Linked DNA regions of Homo sapiens. The protein of the gene in region 2 purifies or fractionates together with the protein of the main gene of each other region. This does not show direct contact. Each region holds a gene or a part of one and is shown on either strand. Other genes may lie near its edges.

What was found.
Region 1: the proteins of NENF (region 2) and PDIA5 purify together in Homo sapiens (affinity purification with mass spectrometry; 3 studies listed by BioGRID and IntAct, with this or other methods). This does not show direct contact.
Region 3: the proteins of NENF (region 2) and BLVRB purify together in Homo sapiens (affinity purification with mass spectrometry; 3 studies listed by BioGRID and IntAct, with this or other methods). This does not show direct contact.

Annotation. Positions count from the first base shown.
Region 1 is NC_000003.12:123,154,006-123,161,111, forward strand, and holds part of PDIA5 (protein disulfide-isomerase A5 precursor), read left to right. Parts: intron 1-965; coding exon 966-1,036; intron 1,037-7,106.
Region 2 is NC_000001.11:212,428,294-212,436,009, forward strand, and holds the start of NENF (neudesin precursor), read left to right. Parts: upstream 1-4,626; 5' UTR 4,627-4,650; coding exon 4,651-4,827; intron 4,828-7,716. UniProt on the Homo sapiens protein: Acts as a neurotrophic factor in postnatal mature neurons enhancing neuronal survival. Promotes cell proliferation and neurogenesis in undifferentiated neural progenitor cells at the embryonic stage and inhibits differentiation of astrocytes.
Region 3 is NC_000019.10:40,455,696-40,462,801, reverse strand, and holds part of BLVRB (flavin reductase (NADPH)), read left to right. Parts: intron 1-4,256; coding exon 4,257-4,421; intron 4,422-4,557; coding exon 4,558-4,647; intron 4,648-7,106. UniProt on the Homo sapiens protein: Enzyme that can both act as a NAD(P)H-dependent reductase and a S-nitroso-CoA-dependent nitrosyltransferase. Promotes fetal heme degradation during development.

The DNA.
Region 1 (7,106 bases), on a different chromosome or scaffold from region 2:
CCAGTGACTGGGAAAGGGCTGAGAGAGGAGGGGGGTTTGGGTTCTGATCTGTTAGTGCTGAGGGAAGGGCTGGATCAGCCTGCAGCTCCTGGGCTCACCAGGACAGGAGGAGAAAGTGGCCCCCACAGAGGTCCCTACCCTGCTTCTGAGACACTGAGGTCAGAGTTGGGGCTCAGGGTGATGCCCAGAACAAGAGACAGATGCTGGAGGTAGGGGCCCCAGTATAGCTCAAAGGCCTTAGGCTGCTCTGACAAGCCTTCTCCCTGGGACAGGGAGCATCAAGGGACCTGAGGACTGCCTGGTGACTTCCCGTAGCTCCTCTCCCTCTTACCCTGACCATGGCCTTCCTGTTCCTGGCTTTGAGGTTCTGGTTATTGTAGAGCAAAGAGTAGATGGAGACCTGGGGACCAGGGCCTGATTTGGCTGCTCACAGTCTGGGCTGGGTGGAGGTTGCTAGGAATGCAGAAGTTAGCAGCAAATCATGAGCAGTGGGTGCAGAGTAGTTGCCCCAAAATCCCCCCACCCTGCATTTCCCAACGCCACTTCCTCTCAGTCAGGAAATGGAGAGATTTGCTATTGTCCCTGGAGCAAGAGAAGATTGTAGCGGCTCTGAGAATCCCGTGCCTTCCTCTTTAAGCCCAAAGCTCCCTCTGCCCCCAAGATCAGGCTGTTCCTCGTCCTCTGTGGAAGGAGCAGAACTAGACTACAGTGACCATCGCCCCCCAGCCTGGGCAGGAGCATATGATGCTTGTGACAGGGACTCCTACCAGTCCCCCCTACCAATAGATCAGACATGGGTGGGAGGTGGTTAGAGTGGCAAGGTTGACAAAAGGACCCTGACAGTGTGGCGGGCAGTGGGGAGCTCCTGGAGAGCCCTCTCTGGAGCTTTCAGGAAGGGTCCCTGGCCCTGCAGCCTCCCTGCACATGCATCACAGTCCTGTGTGCTCTCTTCCCCTCTCACACAGGGTGCCCACACTGTAAGAAGGTCATTCCGCACTTTACTGCTACTGCTGATGCCTTCAAAGATGACCGAAAGGTAAGGACAGCGCTCTTCATCTCTTGATCTGCCTGCAGCTAATTCCTACACCTTCCTTCTTGTCATTCAGGTCCTTCCCCAAACAGGGGCAGGTCTGCTAAGACCTGTAAGCAGGAAATTCCTTGGGAACCAGGACATTCTCTTTAGAAGGAAGATAGGGCAGGCTGGATTTATGCTGCAAAATCAACTAAAAGGGATATGCTGAACCATTCCAGCACTTACTTGGAGGAGAGGGATGGTTAAAGGGGTCATCTATTTACTTTTTTAGTGTTTGAACCTTTTTACTGTAGGATTGTCATCATGCATTACTTATATAATTAAAAATACAAATTTAAAAATCCAACAAAAGTCAACTGGAGGATGCCATGGTGGAGGAGAGCAAGGCCATGTCAGTGGAGCCTCGCCCTGCCTAAGTGAAAGGCTCCTGCAGCTGCCGACTGATGAAGCATAAAATTAACAAGCTAGAGCTGCAGATTGGATTAGAGTGCAGGGCCTCCAGGCGCGTCCCCCAGGCACATCCCCCAGGCAGCTGGTGCAGTGGGGGCTTCTGCTGGGAGAGGGCTTGTGGGGCAGGGAAATACCCCTGAATTCGGGGAAGTGTGATTGACTGCCAGCCTTTGAGTTCCCTTCTCATCCATGCCAGGCGGAGCACTGGTGCAGAGGACTGCAAACATTCCTCCCAGCCCTGAGACTCAGTCATGGGAACCTCTGGCCTAACAGGCCCTAGAAGCTGGCAGTCACGTGGGATCTGCATTCACACACACCCAAACCCAGAGTCACGTGCAGGGGTGCCTTACTTTCCTGGGTGGAATCCCAGGTGGGGCCAGGGCAGGCTGGAAGGAACCAAGGCCAGGCATAAGCTGAGCATAGAGTCCTAGATGATAAACAGGCCAAGCAGGCCTAGACGGAAGTTCAGCCGAGGCAGGAAAGGGGAGCAGGTATTAGTGGAGCAGCCCTCACAAGCAGAGACAGATGACCATCCCAGGGCCGGGTGGGCAGGGTTTGAAGTTTTGATCAAGGCCAACAGGAGGTCAGGCCTAAAGGTACCATCCAGACCTTGTGGGAGCAGAGATACAGGTGCTAGGATCACCTTAACAGGCCCAGAGACAGTGGCAGAGATGGGGTAATGAGAACTTTACAGGGACATAAAGCCAAAGGAAGCCAGGCTGGGGACAGGCCCATGCAGGCAGAGTGGGGATGAACTGGGAACCTGATTCTCACTTAGACCCAGAGCCCAGGACTCTCTCTGGAGTCAGGAGGTCCCATTGTTACCCGAAAGCCCTGGCTGCGGCTTTGAGGCACCCCTCACCCCCACCAGAAGGGAGTACAAGGACCAGAAGCGTTTTCTCCTCTGCCTGCCCCTTTCCCTGCACTGAGTGGGGTATGGCAGCAGGGGCTTCCTTCCCGTGTCCATGTCCCTCATTGTTCCCACCCACTTGTGCACAGCACAGGGTAGTTGCTCCTGCTTGGTGGTCCCACGATATCCAGCATGGCCTGGGCTGCCAGTCCACAGGACCGGAATAGCTGCCACTCTGTATTGACGTCCATCACGTGCCACCCAGAATGCTGGGTGCTCTGGGCAGCAGGAGAAAGGCTGAGGTGTGCCATCTCCCTGTCCCACTGGACACTCAGGTCTCCATAGGCCCCAGGAGATCTGTGAGGGTCCTGAGGCATGACTGGCAGACAGATCCTGGGCTTGCCCTCCCAGCCATGCTGGGGAGCATGGTGTCAGGGAGCGTGGTCCAGCTGAGGCACCGAGGGGGCTGGGGAAACCCTGAAGGGGCAGCCCCATTGACGTGGCCCCTTTCTGCCCACTAGACCGCCGCTGAGGCTGTCCTGTGGCCTGACCCACATCAGTGCAGGTGAGGCCAGACTTGCCAGGCCTCCAGCGGGCAGCTGAGAGCCCACGTCTTCTCTTCCCATTCCCCCTGCACTGCTACATGGGGGCCCATTTCCTTGATGCTCCCCTCCGCTTAGACACTGACACACCTTTGCTTGATTGTCTTGGGCCAGTGGTGTTGTGGCCTTTTCCTGGGTTCAGTCCTCCTGTCTCTTATTCCCTCTGTCTCTCCTTTCAGCTTCCTTTATTCCAAGCCAGGGATCACCCTCACTTGCATTCAGGAATGCACTTCATAACCTCTCTGTCTGAGGCAGGTGGCCTGCCTGGGTTTCCTGGAGGTTATATTCATGACATCAGGGAAGCCAGCCATCTGGCCTGGGGGGCTGAACTTACTGGTGCCCACTCTGTGCTCCAGGCATGGCACTGTGACTACTGGGTCCCATCCTACAACTATCAGATCAGAGTCTCTGGGGGATGGTGCTGGAAATTTGTGGTTTTTAAGAGCTGGCTCTTGTGCTGGCCACAGGCTGGTGTGTGGGGACTGTTGGCCTGTCCCCTCTCCCTTTACTCGTGAGGGATCCAGGCCCAGAGAGGAGCTGTGTCCCTTGTTCAGGAATGCCCAGCGGGTCACTGACAGCCAGAACTGGGTCTCCTGACACCCCAAGCTGCCACTTCTTAGCTGGAATTGTGGGGTTTTTCCACCCAGAAGCCAGCCCCTGTTCCTATCCCAATCAATATGCAGTTGGTTGTTCACTTCCATTTTCATAGCCAAAGTCAATATTAGCTCCTGCAGAGATTTATTTTACTGAATCAATAAAGCTGTGTGTGGCAGCTCATATTTTAGCAGGGGAGCCTCCACCCCCTCCCGGGAGCTTACTTGGGGACTTTATCGGTTGGCACACTGGTGGGGAAAGGAATGCAAAGTGTTAGTGTTGGAACAGATGGTGTTATTGAAGGGGCAAGGCAGACAGGACCTGTGGTGGGCTGGCAAGCAGGTGGGGGGCTCACCTTTCACTGCACGTCAAGGTGTGCAGGCTGGGGGTGGTGTGGGGCCAGGTGTGAAGGTCACCCTTAGAGGGAGGCCCTGAGGCAGTGGGGGCCCCACCTCTGCCATGGGCCCACTTCACTGCTGGAATCTGGCCATGACATGTAGGTCCTCCTGTTTATGAGGCTGGCTACTGCCTTTTCCAAGTGAAAGCTCCCTCAGGACAGAGACCTCATTTGTCCTTGAACTCCCCACAGTCATGACACCTTAGACCTGTGTAAATGTTGACTAGGTGAAGGAACAATATAACATATTTGATATTTACTGCGAGCTCTTCTTCCACTGAAAGCATTTCTTACATCATGTTGTCCTTACAATAGCTTGCTCAACTAGGTATTGTTACAGTGCTCATATTGCTGAAGAGGTGATTGAATCTTAGAGAGATCATATGCTAGTTTCTCAGCTGGAGAGGGGCAGAGTGAGAATCGCAAACAGGCATTGTCAGAGTTTGAGTTCTCCCAGAAGCAGACCCTGCTCCTGGGCTCATGTGCAGGGAATTTATTTGGGAAGTGATCTCAGGAAGTTCAGAGAGGACCCTGGAAGTGAGACACGAAAGGGGAGGAACCAAAGCAGGTGTTTTATGGGCAGATGACTGGATGAGTCACCAAGGCTCAGTCCCACAGGAGACCTCACCAGGAAACGTGACACAGAGCTGTTCCACTCAAAGGCCAAAGAAGCCAGGGTCCTTGTTCTAGACCCCCATCTGTCATTGGCCTTACGTCCAGCTCCTTGAGGCTGGGAGGATGCTCTGAGGCTGAGAGTAGCAGGTGCTGTGGCAAGGGCTGGTCTGAGGGGATGTGGCAGGACACCAGCAGCGTGTGCCCCAGGATTTGTACCAACCACCATAGAACAAATTGAGAAATCGTAGGTGTTCTGTGTTGCAGGTGATCAGTGCAAATCTTGAGTTGGGTGTAAGGGGACAGGCATTTAGGTGAAATTTCAATAGCTGAGAAGAGCTTTATTCGCTGCCTTCTTTCCAAAGAGTCTAAGCTGCTGCCTTTGGGGAGGACGCATTTGTCTCTTCTTCTGTGGAAAACGCGCGTGGATTCACCTTTGCAGCTAGAAGTTGCATTCCATGTGTGCGGCTGGCAGCTAGTTTAGGTGATTCAGAACAAGTATACATTTCTAATTTAGTAGATTTATAAAACCATACACTATATTTCCAATAGCTCCAGGGCATTGTATACAAATTAAATTCATAATTTAAAGCAGATGCAGGGAGAGCAGCAGCCCAGAGCCATGTTCATCCAGCACTTTCATGGCGGAGCAGCAGCTCCTGGCCCGGGCTGGGCATGGGGCCTCAGCCTCTGGCTGCAGGGAAGGAAAGTATGTGGATGCCCGTGTCCCTGGGCAGGGCCCCATAGCACCTGCCCTGAGAAATGGAACCCCACAATTTGGCCAGGGGAGCATCTGCCTCATGTTTTTAAATAATAAAGTGCGTTAGAGGTGGGCTGCGGTTATCAGAAGTGCATAGGGGCCAGTCTGCTGGCCTGGGTGAACTGGGCTCCAGGGGGTGCTGGGGAAGGTATGTTTAGCCTACCTGAAGGACAGCTGCCTCTCTGCCCAGCCAGTTGTCACCTGTGAGACTGCAGGGTAAGTGCCATCAAGTCTTCTGACTTTTAAAGAGAAGCTGGAAAGCCAAATTGTTGTATTAAATCTTCTGGCTCCATTTCTATGTTGGAGCTAATTCAGATTTATTTTTTTTGTTGTTGTTAAATTCAATGTGGGCCAAATAGAAGAGGACTGAGAGCCAGATACAGATTGCAGGCAGCAAGTTTGTAAACTCCATTTTAAAAGTCTCACCGTATAGAATGTTACATAGCTGAAGAGTAGAAGGGAAGCGTGAGGGTGAGGGGGGTGAAGGTGGCACCTGGTGGCCAGGGGAGGCCGCACCTCACTCTTCTCTTCAGCTATCCATCTGGCAGCTCACCTGGGCATGAGGGACATGATGAGTAAACGTGGCCATGGGGGCCCACAGGATTCTCCTACCTGGAAAGGGGCTTTGTCCAAATGCAAATAACCATCAACCAAAGAACTGTGTGAATCATGGTTATTCAATAATTTTAAATTATCTTATTGAATCACCCTCTTTTAATTTCTTCCAAGCATTCATTGAGCTCTATCTAAAATGATCTAATTTGTCATACAGCAGACGCTTGATAACTGGACTTTGTCAAGGTCGACGTTGTCCCCCAGCATCTAGAACAGGCTTGGCACACGGCAGGGTTTCAGTGTGTGTTGCCTGGTAGGAGGACTCATTCTCATGGGAATCTGCCCCATCTTCCATAACACCTCTGTACTGGGTATGGCCATTGAGGACCCCTTCTCGGGCTTCCCTGGTGCATGACCCTCAACCGGAAACAAGTTCCCCATTTCTGCTTTATACTGTCTTCCTTTGAAAAAACAACAAATGATGAGGAAAAGCTACCCAGCATGTGGAATTTGCTAGATGGTCAAGAAGAGGCCAGTGGCCAATGTGGGAACCACTTTCTGACCAAACATTCTGATGGCTTTACTCATGCGGGGCTCCTCCAGTTTCCAGATGTGCTTCCCTGGTCTCCTCCTCTTCCAGTCTTGGCTCAGATGGCGAATCATACAGAGCGCCTTTGCCCCACTCACCTGGCACCTGGACCACCTCCCTCATCCCTCACATCACATCATGTTGGAATTGTCCCTTTATCCAACCCCTGCCCAGACACTGAGCCCCTAAGTGGGGACAGAGCTTGTATATGGGGTTGGAAGAAGTGACTGTAATAGCAGCTGACATTTCCTGACCATGAATCTGGTGCCAGGTTCTGTGCTCACTGGCCTCACTGGAATTCTCTTATTCAGTCTTCACAATATCCTGATAGCCTAGATACTATTATTATCCCCATTTTACAGCTGAAAAAAATGAGGCACCAAGAGGCTGAGTTATTTTCCTTAAGTCTTACTGTCCAGGCAAACCAAGAGTGCACTTGGGGAACTTGACTTGAAAGCTCTTGCCCTTAACCTTGGCACTATACTGTCCCCCCAAGCTAATGTTCCGGAAATATTAGTGGAGAAATGATTAAATCCTACAGTCCCTTACAGATAGCACCACAGAACCTGTGGTGTTTACAAATGCTTTCAAGTCATCATTTCCTTTACGATCATCATACTCTTGATTTTAAAGGACAGTCTAAAGGCACTCCAGGCCGAGTCCC
Region 2 (7,716 bases):
AACACACCCAGGTGAAGATTGGCAAATAGACTACACTCAAATACCCCCATGGGAAGGATTCAAATATTTATTAGTATTCATCGATACCTTTACTTGTTGGATTGAAGCTTTTCCTACCTGGTCTGAAAAGGCAACTGACATTTCTAAATTTTTATTAAAGGAAATAATCCCTAAGTTTGGGCTGCCTAAAAGCTTACAGAATGGCTCATTTTTCACAGCAACAAGAACCCAAAATATATCACCGGCTCTAGGAATTCAGTATCATCTTTATTCAGCATGGAGGCCACAGTTTGCAGGAAAAGTAGAAAGGGCCAAACTTCAAAGAGGACTCTTGCCAAGTTATGCCAGGAAACATCAGAAACCTATTCGTCTCTATTGCCTGTGGCCTTGTTGCTAGTTTTGGCTGCCCCTAAGGGAAACTTGCAGCTCAGCTCTTTCGAAATAATGTATGGAAGTCCTTTCTTAACTGCAGATTTCCTAGTAGATATAGATACTTTCAAATTACAGAACTACGTTATTAACTTAGGTCGGGTGCAAAAAGCTCTTCTTGAATATGGAAATCAGAGACTTCCTCCCTCCACTAAGGAAGAAAATGCTACAATCCAGCCAGGAAACTGGGTTCTATTAAAAACTTGGAAGGAAGGGTCTCCGTTAGATCAACCTTCCCCAAAGTACTTGTACAAAGTACTCTACCAAGTACTCCTTAGTACCCAAACTGCAATTAAACTTCAAGGAATAAGCAGCTGGGTTCATTTATCTCGAATTAAACCCATTTCTTATGAAGTCCCACAGGCTGAGACTGATCTCACTTATCCCTGTGTACCAACCACTGATCTCTGGCGCCTGCTCAGAAGAAACAAGAAGGATGAATAACTTAAAGATTTGGATTAACATCTTAATTCTGCGCATGTATTGGAACCAGCTAAGAAGCAATCTCTTTGCCAAATGGGCACAGACTTTAGCCTCCCTACACAACAACACTAATTGCTGAGTATGCACGGAACTAATGCCTCCTCCACCTCAGGCTGCCCTGGCACATCCTGCCAGCCACTATGAGCATATGGGGAAATTATTATGATTGGGGTAAATGGACCACCCTTTTTCCCTTCTACTACAGAAACACAGGGCCCAGCCCTTTCCCTTCCCACCGTGAAACAAAGAAGCCTCTTTTTTGTTTGATCAGAAAATTAAACTCCACTCTGACGTAAGGTTATACTGTACACGATGAATGGATGACAGCTGTCTAAGTTCAGGTATTAGGCAGAGTGCCCCTATGCTTTGAAAGACAATAGCAGTGATTACTACACTGAAACCTGTAACATGGAATGGTTACTACCCCAACACTATAATTGCACCCTTCTTGTAACTAGCCAAACGTGGATGGGATGGCAAAATGAGTCTTTATGGCTAGGTGCTTGTACTTCTCCTTGGGGTTGATTATGGGCATGTGGGTCACATGGCTGGCCATATGTGCCTTATAATTGGACTGGAAGATGTACATAGGGTCATCTTCATCTCCCAGGATGTATCCTCACTAAATTATAATCTCTCCCATCTAACTGGGAAACTGTAAAAGCTCGTCATAAGTGACAAAAGCAGTCTTCTTGGTTGTTTTACCCATTGGCTATCTGTCACATGTGTCCGTATAGAAGACCACCTAAACAGGCTTTGTGTGAGCAACAGGGCTGTTTATTCACTTGGGTGCAAGTGGGCTGAGTACGAAAAGAGAGTCAGCGAAGGTAGATAGGAGAGGGGCAGCTTTATAGGACTGAGGTAGGCAGTGGAATGTTACAGTTAGAGGTGGTTATCTATTGTCAGCAGAGGAGGGGGTCACAGGGTCCATGGTGGGGAGATCATAAGATTCATTGTCCAGAAGAAGAATGTCACAAGGTCGATTGATCAGTTGGGGCAGGACAGGAACAATTCATAATGGTGGAACGTCGTAAGGCTGGTCAATCAGTCAAGGCAGGAGCTTCTTTTGTTGCACTTCTTTTGTGTTTTTTTGGCTGCTCCAGACTTCTTGGCTCCTGCAGGCCATCTGGACTTATAGGTGCAGGTCACAAGGGTTACAATGGCTGAGCTTCAGCTCAGAGGCCTGACACTGTCTTCTCCCCACAGGCAGCCACAATTGACATTGAGCTTCAAGCCAAAGCCATAGCTAAACACAGCTGCAGTTTTCAATAATACACGCCATGCCCTTACCCTCTTGACTGAAGAAACATCTCAAATTAGACAGATAGCCTTATGAAACTATGGCTCTGGACATGTTAACAGCAGCTCAAAGGGGGAACTTATGCTATAATCAAAACAGAATGTTATGCATACATTCCAGACTATTCACATAATGTTACTCAGGCCACAAAAGACTTAGACACCCACATCTCTGCCATTGACACGCTGTCAGTTGACCCCATATCAGCTTGGTTCTAACAACTGCCTAGTCCTTGGGAAACTTTTTTTGTTTAGCATGCTTGGGATAATTCTATTCATTCTGTTTTGTGCTGTGGAATATACTGCATTGTACTTTTTATGTAGGAATAAGAGTTAAGCTTATTCAATGCTTCTTTAAATTTAACACGTTAATTTTCTAGATTTCACCTTTTTCTGGGACTTAGAATTATGTATGATTGGTCCTCACTATACAGATGCTTTCTGACTGGCTAGCTCTCTACTTTGGGCAAAGGGATCCTAATGGTTAGGCAGGAATATCATCGCTTCTGTTCAGCTTGAAGTTACTGAAGATGGATCTCTGTCCCCCTGCACCCCTTAGGATTAAAGGTCTCCTTGTAAAAAGGAGGAGGGAATTATGTCAGAAGTGTCCTAACCAGAGTGATTCCATCTTGAATAAAGGTCAGATAAAGCCAAACCTGCTGGGCGACTTTCCCAGGAAGATAGGCACTCTTCACAAGATGTTTATGGTTGAGGAAATGAGATAATGGAAAAAGGCATTCTTAGTTTAAAAATGAGTTTCACTTTAAAGATAACAGTACACCCATAAATTCTCCCTGAAGTCAATAGTTACACAAGAGAATAACAATACTAATAGTCTGTAACAAGCTGATCATAGGCTTTTGTAATGAAGTACGCTAGTTTTAGCCCTATAAAAGCAAGCATTACATTGAAGGCAGAGGTGCTCCTATATAAACAATACTTGCTTAGTACTACTTCAAAGCAAGGATACTACTCAGAAACACAGTAGTACTATTATTAGAAATGGAGTAGTTTCTAATGAACTATTTTAACTACTATGCTCTGCGACTTGCCCTGATTCTTTGCCGTGGACGTCTAAGAACCTGCTCTTGGGTCTGGAATGAGACCCTTTTTCTGTTAATTCCTCTATTCCAGTCTTGAAAGTAAAAGCCAGTCTTGAAAATAACCTGTGAAGCCCCCAAGATCCACCCCCACTCCCTTACCCGCTTCCTTCCTGACTTCACCTACCCCTCTTACCTTCCCTTGATCCTCCAGCAAGCCGGGCATCCTCATTCCTCCGCATTTATGCACCTGATCCTTTGACCAAAGTGCTCTTCCCTCTAGACCGCCTCCTTCGCCTCCTGTAGATTTTTATGCAAATACCCTGTTCTCAGTGAGGCCTTCCCTAACCTGCCTATTTAAAATGACCATCCCCATAACCGGGCACCGTTCCTCACACCTGTAATCCCAGCACTTTGGGTGGATGAGGTGGATGGTTCACTTGAGGCCAGGAGTTCGAGACCAGCCTGGCCAGCATATAGTGAAACCTCATCTCGACTAAAAATTAAAAAAAAAAAAAATTAGCCAGGCGTGGTGGTGGGTGCCTGTAATCCCAACTACTCTGGTGGCTGAGGCAGGAGAATCACTTGAACCCGGAAGGTGGAGGTTGCAGTGGGCCGAGATGGCGCCACTGCACTCCAGCGTAGGCGACAGACTCCGTCTCAAAAATAAATAAATACATAACAATAAAATAAAATAAAATGTCCATCCCAGTGCTCCCTATCTCTTTGCCCTACTTTTTCTCCCTAGTATTTACCACCATCTAACATACTACTTAGCATCTTATTGTCTATCTGCCCACACAATGTAAGCTTCACGTGGGCGTGGATCTGTCTTGTTCAGTGGTGAGTCCCCAGTGACCTGGTACATGGAGGTACTCAAAAATATTTGTTGCATAAAGTAATGAGCAAAGTTTGGCACAAATGTTAGCTATTATTATTTCAGGGCGTATCGGTAACAGCACCCTACCCTTTGCAAAAATCTCCTTGGGAACCAGAAACTTAAACACAACCAGGAAGAAAAAAAATCAGCCAAAAATAAAAGCGAATTAAGACAGTTGGGGTCTTATTTTAGAAATATACCTTTCTAGGTTCTGGTATGTTGGGCTCTGTCATCTTTCTACCTGATCAAGGAACCACTGTGACATTTTTTGGTAACTTCCAGTCTGTAGTTTGGATTTAGGAGTTCAGGATTCCAATCCTAATTTCCAGGTTCCAGCTGCGTGGCCCGAGTAGCCCGGCCAGCCCCACCCCGGGGCGCAGGAGGCGCGCGAAGGGCGGGAGTTCTCGGGTCCCCGCCCTCGGGGAGGCTCTGGGCGCGGGGCGGGACTCCGGGACGCTGGGCGGGCGTGCTAGGGCCCCGCCGCCCTGGCCCGGCCTTGCCTTGCGCTGCGCGCTCACCATGGTGGGCCCCGCGCCGCGGCGGCGGCTGCGGCCGCTGGCAGCGCTGGCCCTGGTCCTGGCGCTGGCCCCGGGGCTGCCCACAGCCCGGGCCGGGCAGACACCGCGCCCTGCCGAGCGGGGGCCCCCAGTGCGGCTTTTCACCGAGGAGGAGCTGGCCCGCTATGGCGGGGAGGAGGTAGGCGGGGGTGTCGCGGGCCGAGGGACCCGGGGTGGCGTCCGATCTGCGGCGAGCCGAGCGGGGACCCAGGAGGCGCCGGCGGCCCAGGAAGCTCTGGGGGACGCGCGGCCCGCGGCGGGCGCCCTGGGCCGGCGGGGGGCCTCCTCTCTCTAGGCCCCGAAGGATGGCCGAGGGGTGAGGACGAGTCCTCAACAGTCGGAGCGCTCCGCTTTGCCCGCACACCCCACCCTGAACTTCTCCCTCGGTCCCCGGGAGATTTCCCCTCTAGCCGCCTTTTCGTTGATGATCTGCGTACAGACCTCAGAACTTTTTGGTTTTCATGTTAGCATCAGCCGAGGCGTTTACTGTGCCCACGCATAGTGGGGAGTGGCGGGGGACGGAGGGAGGGAAGCAGAGCCTGCTCCCTGGGTTAGGTGGGAATTGAGACAGGTCCTGGGATAAGCCAGTCTTTGCCTGCACTTCCTTTTCCTGCCCCTGTATCCCAGGCCTCTGCATCGGACTCCTCAAACCCACTTTTAGGTCATGTACCCCTGGGGCTCAGCCAAAGCTGGAAGTGAGCGCAGAGGGTGGACTGGAGGTTAGAGACCCCCACAACCCCCCCGCCACACGTCAATAGAGACCCCCCCGCCCACACACACCCACACACGTCAATAGTCTAGAGGCGTCCAGAAAACTCACAACCACCTGCCCACCTGGGTTGGTTGGGACTGGAGCCGCACGACAAGGACCAACAGGGGGCTGATATTAGATGTGGAGCGGGGGAACGGCATTGGGGGGAGGTCATAGTACCATAGTATTTCAGAGCTGGCAGGAACCCATCTCCTGCTTTTACACATAAGGAAACTGAGGCCTGCCACCTGTTAGTGGTAGAGCAGGAAGAGGCCTGATGTTTTTCAAAACCCTCTGGCCTGGTCTCGCTAATTCCTGAGTTAATTGGCCTTATATGGACTAGGATTGCATGGGGGTATCAGAAACCTGGCCCTTAGTCAGTGATGCCAGTTTGGGCATCATTTGTGAAGGGGCCATTTAGAACCATGAGTCAGTGAGGACACCGAGGGAGGGAGACATGGCTGGGATGTGAGGATGTTAAGGGATGCCTTTTTGCCGGTAGCAGAGGGAACCAGATGGTTCAGAGTCCAGGCATCCGTGCAGAAAAGAATTAACATGGCAGGCCTGCTCTCCTTAGAAAAGCCTACTTGCAAGGGTGGGACTTGTCTAGTGTCTGGATTTCTCACCCTTCCCTACCCAATAACGGTGGACTCACTTGCCTAGGCCGTATATACAGATGGTGTGGTTAGTATTGAACACTGTATATGCTAGGCAGAGGGTGCCCCATGTGACCAGCCCCCAGTGAAAACCTTGGGTGCTGAGTCTAATGGGCATCTCTAGCAGAGGAATGTTCTGCCAGAAGAATGGCACATACTGTCAAGTTTTGTTGCTGGGGGAAGAGTGTGCTCTTCCTCATGGGAGGGAGAGAGCATAGGAAACCTGCACATAGATTCCCCTAGATTCTCCCTCTGTGTTTTTCCTTCCCAGCTGTGAGTAGAACTATATGCTGGGTTCTTGGAATCTTCCTTCTAGGGACTCTCCAACTGACCCGATGATCTTTGGGACCACTGGCACAAGAATCTAAGGAAAGAGAGAGTTCACCACTGAGGTTACAGCAAGAGTGCCAGAACTGCAAGATGAGGACTGAGAAAAGACCCTTGGTTTTTTGATGTTGATGTTATAGATTGAAATTTAACTGAGAGAGAGAGGACCTTGAGATGGAAACAGGGGTAGGAAACAATTGTTTTGGGAGTGGAGCCTGAGGATCTCTGTAGGTGGAAGGAAGGAGCCAGAGAGAGGAGGGGAGCGAGGGACGAGAGAGGCAGTTGAGTGCAGTGGGTTCAAGCTGTGCTGCGCTGTTGTTTGACCTAGATTGTTCTGGTCTATGCCTGTTATCCAGGGATAATTATTAATAACACCCTTTCACTCAGAAGTGTGACAATTTGTATAATACATTGGATCATACCTGGTTTTGAGTCCCTGTTCTGCTGTGTGATTTGGGGCAAATTACTAAACCTCTCTGAGTCTCCACTTTGTTCGTAAGATACTTGGATTAGTCCAGGTTTCACCAGGGAACAGAACCATTTGGATATCTATATCTATACAGTTGATCCTTGAGCAACACAGGAGTTCGGGGTACTGACCCCCATGCAGTCAAAAGTCTGCATATAACTTTTTTTTCTTTTAGAGGCAGGGTCTTGCTGTGTCGCCCAGAATGGAGTGAGTGGCTTTTCACAGGCAGTCATGGTGCACTAGAGCCTGGCAATCCTGGGCCCAAGCGATCCTCCTGCCGCAGCCTCCCAAGCCGCTAGTATTACAGGTGTGCACCCAGCCATGTATAACTTTTGACTACCCCCAAAACTACAGTTTTTTTCCTTTTTTTTTTTTTTTTTTGAGACAGGGTCTCACTCTATTGCTAAGCCTGGAGTGCAGTGGCAGGAACACAGCTCACTACAGCCTCCTCCTGGGCTCAAGCAGTCCTCCTACCTCAGCCTTCCCAGTTACTGGCATTACAGGTGTGCACCACCACACCTGGCTATTTTTTAAATTTTCTGTAGAGATGGGGTCTTCCTGTGTTGCCCAGGCTGGTGTCAAACTCCTGGGCTCAAGCAACTCTTCCACCTCAGTTTCCCAAAGTGCTGGGAATACACGTGTGAGCCTCCATGCCTGGCTCAAAACTTAATTACTAATAGCCTACTGTTGACCACAAGACCCAAGAACATAGTCGATTACCACGTATTTTGTAAATGTATTATATACTGAATTCTTACAGTAATGTAAGCTAGACAAAAGAAAGTGTTACTAAGAAAATCATAAAGAAGAGAAAATATATTTACT
Region 3 (7,106 bases), on a different chromosome or scaffold from region 2:
CCTGCTTCAGCCTCCCAAGTAGCTGGGACTACAGGCGCCTGCCACCATGCCCAGCTAATTTTTTTTGTATTTTTAGTAAAGATGGGGTTTCACCATGTTAACCAGGATGGTCTCCATCTCCTGACCTCATGATCCGCCCGCCTCAGCCTCCCAAAGTGCTGGGATTACAGGCGTGAGCCACCACGCCCGGCCAATGGCTGAGATTTTCAAAAAGCTTAAAAAGAGGCCAGGCACCATGGCTCACGCCTGTAATCCCAGCACTTTGGGAGGCCAAGGTGGGCGGATCACAAGGTCAGGAGATCGAGACCACCCTGGCTAACACCGTGAAACCCCATCTCTACTAAAAATACAAAAAATTCGCCGGGTGTTGTGGTGCACACCTATAATCCCAGCTACTCTGGAGGCTGAGGTGGGAGAATCGCTTGAACCTGGGAGGCGGAGGTTGCAGTGAGCTGAGATTGCGCCACTGCACTCCAGCCTGGGCAAGAGAGTGAGACTTCATCTCAAAAAAAAAAAAAAAAAGAATGCCCATATTGGCCCATGCAAGCCCCTGCTGCTCCCCCATGTGTGAGGGCAGCACAGATCTTGTGTCATTCCCCTATGAAAGGTGGTCACATAGCACGGGGAGGCTGGTGCTGTGATCCTCACTTCAGAGATGAGGAAGCTGAGGTCCAATCACGGAAGAGGTTGCATGAGGTTCCTCAGCTGGTAAGTGGCAGAGCTGGAGTTTGGATCAAGGTCCCTGGGGCAGTAATGCCTGTGCTTTTGTGTTTACAAAGGTTCAGGGAGATGGCAGAAAACATGACACAGTCCCTGGACCCACAGGGTGCTTGGTTTGCTGCAGGTCAGCATAAAGAGGGCTGTGACAGAGGAAGTACAAGTTACTGGGGGGACCGGGTAAAGAGGGTAAAGGGTGTTCCAGGCAGAGGGCACAGCACGTGCAAAGTCCAGGAGGCAGGAAGCAGCACCATGCATTTGAGGAACTGAAAGAAGAGCAGTTGGGGCCGGGTGCAGTGGCTCATGCCTGTAATCCCAACACTTTGGGGGGCTGAGGCAGGTGGATCACACAGTCAGGAGTTCGAGACCAGCCTGGCTAACATCGTGAAACCCCATCTCTACTAAAAATACAAAAAAATTAGCCAGGCATGGTGGCAGGCGCCTGTAATCACAGCTACTCAGGAGGCTGAGGCAGGAGAATCGCTTGAACCCATGAGACGGAGGTTGCAGTGAGCCGAGACTGCACCACTGCACTCCAGACTGGGCAACAGAGCGAGACTCCGTCTCAGAAAAAAAAAAAAAAAAATGTGCTGTGGGTGAAGAGGGCAGAGGCTTCAGCAGAGCCTGGAGAGGAGAAGCCAGATCCCGAGGGGCCTGGAAGGCTGGCATGAGGAGCATGGGTTTTATCACAGGGCATTTCAGGCTTGCGGGAGGCAACTGAGCAGAGAGGCACTTAAATATTACTGTGGAGAACTCTGTCTGGCTGCTGTGTGGAATATGGATTGGAGAGGGCAGGACTGGGTCCAGGAGCCCAGGGAGGACCCAGGAAAGGGACCAGGAAGGAGACGTAGGCCTGGATCAGGCCAGGAGATAAAGTTGCAAAATGGTTACAAGGTGTAATAGGCCACGCTCGGTAGCTCATGCCTGTAATCCCAGCACTTTGGGAGGCCATGCCAGGCAGATTACTTGAGTCCAGGAGTTCGAGACCAGCCTGGCCAACATGCAAAACCCCATCTCTTTTTTTAATTTTTTTATTGTGTCTTTTTGGGTTTTTTGGTTTTTTATGTTTATTGTTGTTGTTGTTGTTTGTTTTGTTTTGTTTTGTTTTGTTTGAGACGGAGTTTCGCTCTTGTTGCCCAGGCTGGCGTGCAATGGCACAATCTCAGCTGACTGCAATCTCTACCTCCTGGGTTCAAGCGATTCTTCTGCCTCAGCCTCCCAAGTAGCTGGGATTACAGGCATGCACCACCATGCCTGGCTAATTTTGTATTTTTAGTAGAGGCGGGGTTTCCCTGTGTTGGTCAGGCTGGTCTTGGACTTCCAACTTCAGGTGATCCACCTGCCTTGGCCTCCCAAAGTGCTGGGATTACAGGCGTGAGCCATCGCGCCCAGCACCAGGTAACTCTTATTTCTGTGCCAGGTAGTAGCCTAAACTTTTTGTTAATTTAATTTAATTTAATTTAATTTAATTTATTTATTTATTTTTGAGACAGAGTCTTGTTCTGTAGCCCAGGCTGGAGTGCAGTGGTACAATCATAGCTCACTACAGCCTCAGCCACCTGAGTAGCTGAGACTACAGGTTGCGCCAGCACACCTGGCTAGATTTTTTTTATTTTTTTTGCAGAGACGGGGTTTCACTATGTTGCCCAGTCTGGTCTCAAACTCCTGGCCTCAAACAATCTTCCTGTCTTGGCCTCCCAAAGCACTGGGATTATAATAGGCATCAGCCCAGGAATTTGAGGTTACAGTGAGCTATGATTGGCGCCCCTGCACTCCAGCCTGGGCAACAGAGCAAGACCCTGTCTCTAAATATATATATATATATATATATATATATGTTGCTATTACAGTATACCCAAATGTTAACATCCTTTGCCAATGTTTAAAACAAAGGAAGAAATATGTTAGTTGTGAACTTTAAAATGTGTGTGTATGTGTGTGTGTGTTGAAGAGAAACAAAATTATCCAAAATTATTTTGGGAAGGAACATACTAAGACAATATTAAAAATCTTTAATGACCACTAAAGGAGGGCTGGGCTTCCCAGCAGTAAGGCTGGGCAGCAGGGGCTGGGACCAATCCCAGCACTGGTCAGTCTGTAGGCAACCCATGTCCCCCTCAGAACCTCAGTTTCTTCCAGGACCATGGATGGGAGACAGAGACCAGTGCAATGCCTGCATTAACCCTTTAGTTGTTAGAGGGTAGGGAAGTTGCTGGCTGGGTACAGTGGCTTACGCCTGTAATCCTAGCACTTTGGGAGGCCAAGGTGGGTGGATCACCTGAGGTTAGGAGTTCAAGACCAGCCTGGCCAACATGGTAAAACCCTATCTCTACTAGAAACACAAAAATTAGTTGGATGTGGTGGCATGCGCCTGTAGTCCCAGCTACTCGGGAGGCTGAGGCAAAAGAATCGCTTGAACTTGGGAGGCGGAGGTTGCAGTGAGCTGAGATCATGCCACTGTGCTCCAGCCTGGGCAACAGAGGGAGACTCTATCTCAAAAAAAATAATAATGATAGCCAGGTGTGGTGGCACGTGCCTGAACCCGGGAGGCGGAGGTTGCAGTGAGCCGAGATTGTGCCACTGCACTCTAGCCTGGGTTACAGAGTGAGATTCCGTCTCAAAAAATAATAATAATAATAAATAGAAGGTAAGGAATTTACAGGGTGTGGTGCTTGGAGGCTTCAGTTCAGATTATTTATGAATTATCATGAAGGTATGGTCTTTTTTTTTTTTTTTTTTTTTTTTTTTTTTTTTTTTGAGATAGAGTCTCGCTTTGTCATCCAGGCTGGAGTGCACTGGTGCAATCTCTGCTCACTGCAACCTCCGCCTGTCGGGTCAAGTGATTCTTTTGCCTCAGCTTCCCAAGTACTTGGGATTACAGGTATGTGCCACCATGCCTGGCTAATTTTGTATTTTTAGTGGCAATGGGGTTTCATCATGTTGTCCAGGCTGGTCTCAAACTCCTGACCTCAGGTGATCTGCCCGCCTCAGCCTCCCAAAGTGTTGAGATTACAGGCGTGAGCCACCATGCCTGGCCAAGGTATGGTCTATTTTAATAATCAGCCCAATACTAAGCATCAACTGTAGGTATGCCAGCAAAAATGTTTGAAGGCCACGGCGCAGTGGCTCATGGGGAGGCTGAGGCAGGCAGATCACCTGAGCCCAGGAGTTCAAGACCAGCCTGGGCAACATGGCAAAACCCCTTCTCTACAAAAGATTGCAAAATTAGCTGGGTGTGGTGGTGCACACTGTGGTCCCAGCTACTTGGGGTGCTGAGATGGGAGGATCAGTTGAACCCCGGAGGTTGAGGCTGCAGTGAGCTGTGACTGCACCATTGCACAGCAGCCTGGGCAAGTGAGCAAGACCCTGTCTCAAAAACAAAACAAACAAAAAGAAAAAACCAAAAATGTTTGAAGACCACTTCCCCAGAACAGAGGAGGGGATGGATTTGAGAGTTCATGGTGGCTTCTAGGACCCAGCTCCTGGAGCCCAAGAGTGCCAGCCCACTGACCAGGCTCTCTGCTCCTCTTTGCCCACAGGTTACGAAGTGACAGTGCTGGTGCGGGACTCCTCCAGGCTGCCATCAGAGGGGCCCCGGCCGGCCCACGTGGTAGTGGGAGATGTTCTGCAGGCAGCCGATGTGGACAAGACCGTGGCTGGGCAGGACGCTGTCATCGTGCTGCTGGGCACCCGCAATGACCTCAGTACTGAGCCCCCCCTCTGCCCACGGCCCTCCCCTACACCTCGGCCCCCAGCGCCACCCCCGCCCCCGGCCCCGCCCCTGCCACCCCTGCCGCCGCCGCCGCCCACCAGTGACAGCCACTCTCTGTCCCCTCTAAGGTCCCACGACAGTGATGTCCGAGGGCGCCCGGAACATTGTGGCAGCCATGAAGGCTCATGGTGTGGACAAGGTCGTGGCCTGCACCTCGGGTGGGTGGTGGGATCATGGAGGTGGGGCTGAACTGGGGGGTACTGGGGAGGCAGCCCAGGGGCCTCTGAAAGGTGACGCTGAAGCCATTCCATGTTACTGTGCATTTACTGAACACCAGCTGTGTGCCTGAACCTTACTGGGTGATGCTGGGGACACAGTGGTGACCTGTACAGCCCTGGGCCCTGCTCACACAAGGCTCACAGAGAGAGGTGGTAAACAGATCCATGATCAAACTGACATCCAGATCATCGGAGCTGGGATCGGGAGGCAGGCAGAGGGGATAGGGCCACAATGGGAGAAACTACAGGACTATGGGAGCCCAGAGGAGGCGTCCGACTTAGGCTGAGAGAGGTCAGGGTAGGCCTCCCAGAGGAAGTGATAGAGCTGTGGATAGACACTAGGTCTCTGCCCTCACAGAGCTCCCGATTATGGGGACACAGACATTAAGCAAATAGTTGCCCTGTATAATCATTTATTTATTTATTTATTTATTTATAGTTATTTTGAGGTTTGTTTGAGATAGAGTCTTGCTCTGATGCCCAGGCTGGAGTGCAGTGGCGTGATCTTGGCTCCCTGCAACCTCCGCCTCCCGGAGGTGGTTCTCCTGCCTCAAGTGATTCTCCTGCCTCTGCCTCCCAGGTAGCTGGGACTACAGGTGTGCACCACCATGCCCAGCTAATTTTTGTATTTTTAGTAGAGACAGGGTTTCGCCATGTTGGCCAGGCTAGTCTCGAACTCCTGACCTCAAGTGTGTTTCATGACACAAATTGCCTCCCTGGAAAGGGAAGTGGCATGAGGGAGGGCTGCCTGATGATTGTAATTACACTCCAGGCAGAGGACAAAGCAAGCAAAGAGGCCTGGAGGCCAGACCTAGTTGGAGGGTAGGAAGCAAAATCATTTATGGCTTTTTTCCTCAAGCTCTGAAATGGAAAAGTAATACACGAGTAAACTTGCGATTTCAGAATGGTTCACTTTTTTTTTTTTTTTTTGAGACTTTCTGTCACCCAGGCTGGAGTGCAGTGGTGCAACCATGGCTCACTGCAGCCTCAGTCTGGGTTCAAGTGATCCTCCCCACTGCAGCCTCCCAAGCGGCTGGGACTACAGGCATGCACCACCACACCTGGCTAATTTTTTGATATTTTTGTAGAGACAAGGTCTTACTTTTGTTCGCAGATTGGAATGGTCTGCTGTTAATTTTAGTTTTGTTTTTTTCTCCCATGTCTTTTTTTCTTTGAGATGAAGTCTGACTCCATTGCCCAGGCTGGAGTGCAGTGGCGTGGTATCAGCTCACTGCAACCGCCACTCCACCTCCCGGGTTCATGGTGCCTGGGACCAAGATCGTGGCCCACAGTGATTCTCCTGCCCCAGCCTCCTGAGTAGCTGGGATTACCGGCGCCTGCCACCATGCCCTGCTAATTTTTGTATTTTTGGTAGAGACAAGGTTTTGCCATGTTGGCCAGGCTGATGTTGAACTCCTGGCCTCAAGCAGTCCTCCCACCTCAGCCTTCCAAAGTGCTGAGATTACAGGTATAAGCCACCACGTCCAGACTCTCCCATGTCTTAAAAACCAATTTAACTGGTTAAGTTTTGCTTCCATGAAAAAGACAAACCTGTAAAATTGATTTAATTTGCTTTCTTTTTTCTCATTTTTTTTTGTTTAGATTGTTTTCTAAATATTAAAGTCTTAGGTGTGCCAGGATTTTTTTTTTCATTAAAAAAAAAACAAACATAGAGACAAGGTCTCGCTCTGTCACCCAGGCTGGAGTGCAGTGGCCTGATCATAGCTCATTGTACCCTTGAACCCCTGGGCTCAAGGAATCCCCTCACTTTAGCCCCTCAAATAGCTGGGGCAACAGGTATGAGCCATTGAGTCCAGCTTAACTTTTTATCTGGAAATGATCTTAAACTTACAGAAAAATTGAAAGGACACCAGTACACCTACCGTCCTCTGTTCACAGACACACAATGTTTTTTTTCTGACCCATTTGAAGTTAGCTTACATACATCATGGCTGCTTACTTCAATGTGTAGGTCCTCAATATACTTTTTAACTTTTTATTATAAAAATTTTTAAACAGAAAAGTTAATAGTCGTGTGAACAACCATATTCCTTTTCTTTTTTTATTTTTAAGTTTGTAGCTATCTATCTATTTATTTATTTATTTTGAGACCGGGTTATAAGGCTGGCTAATTTTTGTATTTTTGGTAGAGATAGAGTTTCGCCATGTTGCCCAGGCTGGTCCCGAACTCCCGGACTCAAGCGATCCACCAGCCTCAGCCTCCCAAAGTGCTGGGATTACACCTGAGCCACTGCACCTGGCCAACAGCCATATTCCTGATTTTAAAATTGTGATTGTGTTTTGTAATTGGTTTATCTATGCACATACACATACACAAATAGATTTTGTTTTTGTTCTCCTAAACTATTTGGGTTTTTTGTTTGTTTGTTTTTATTTGA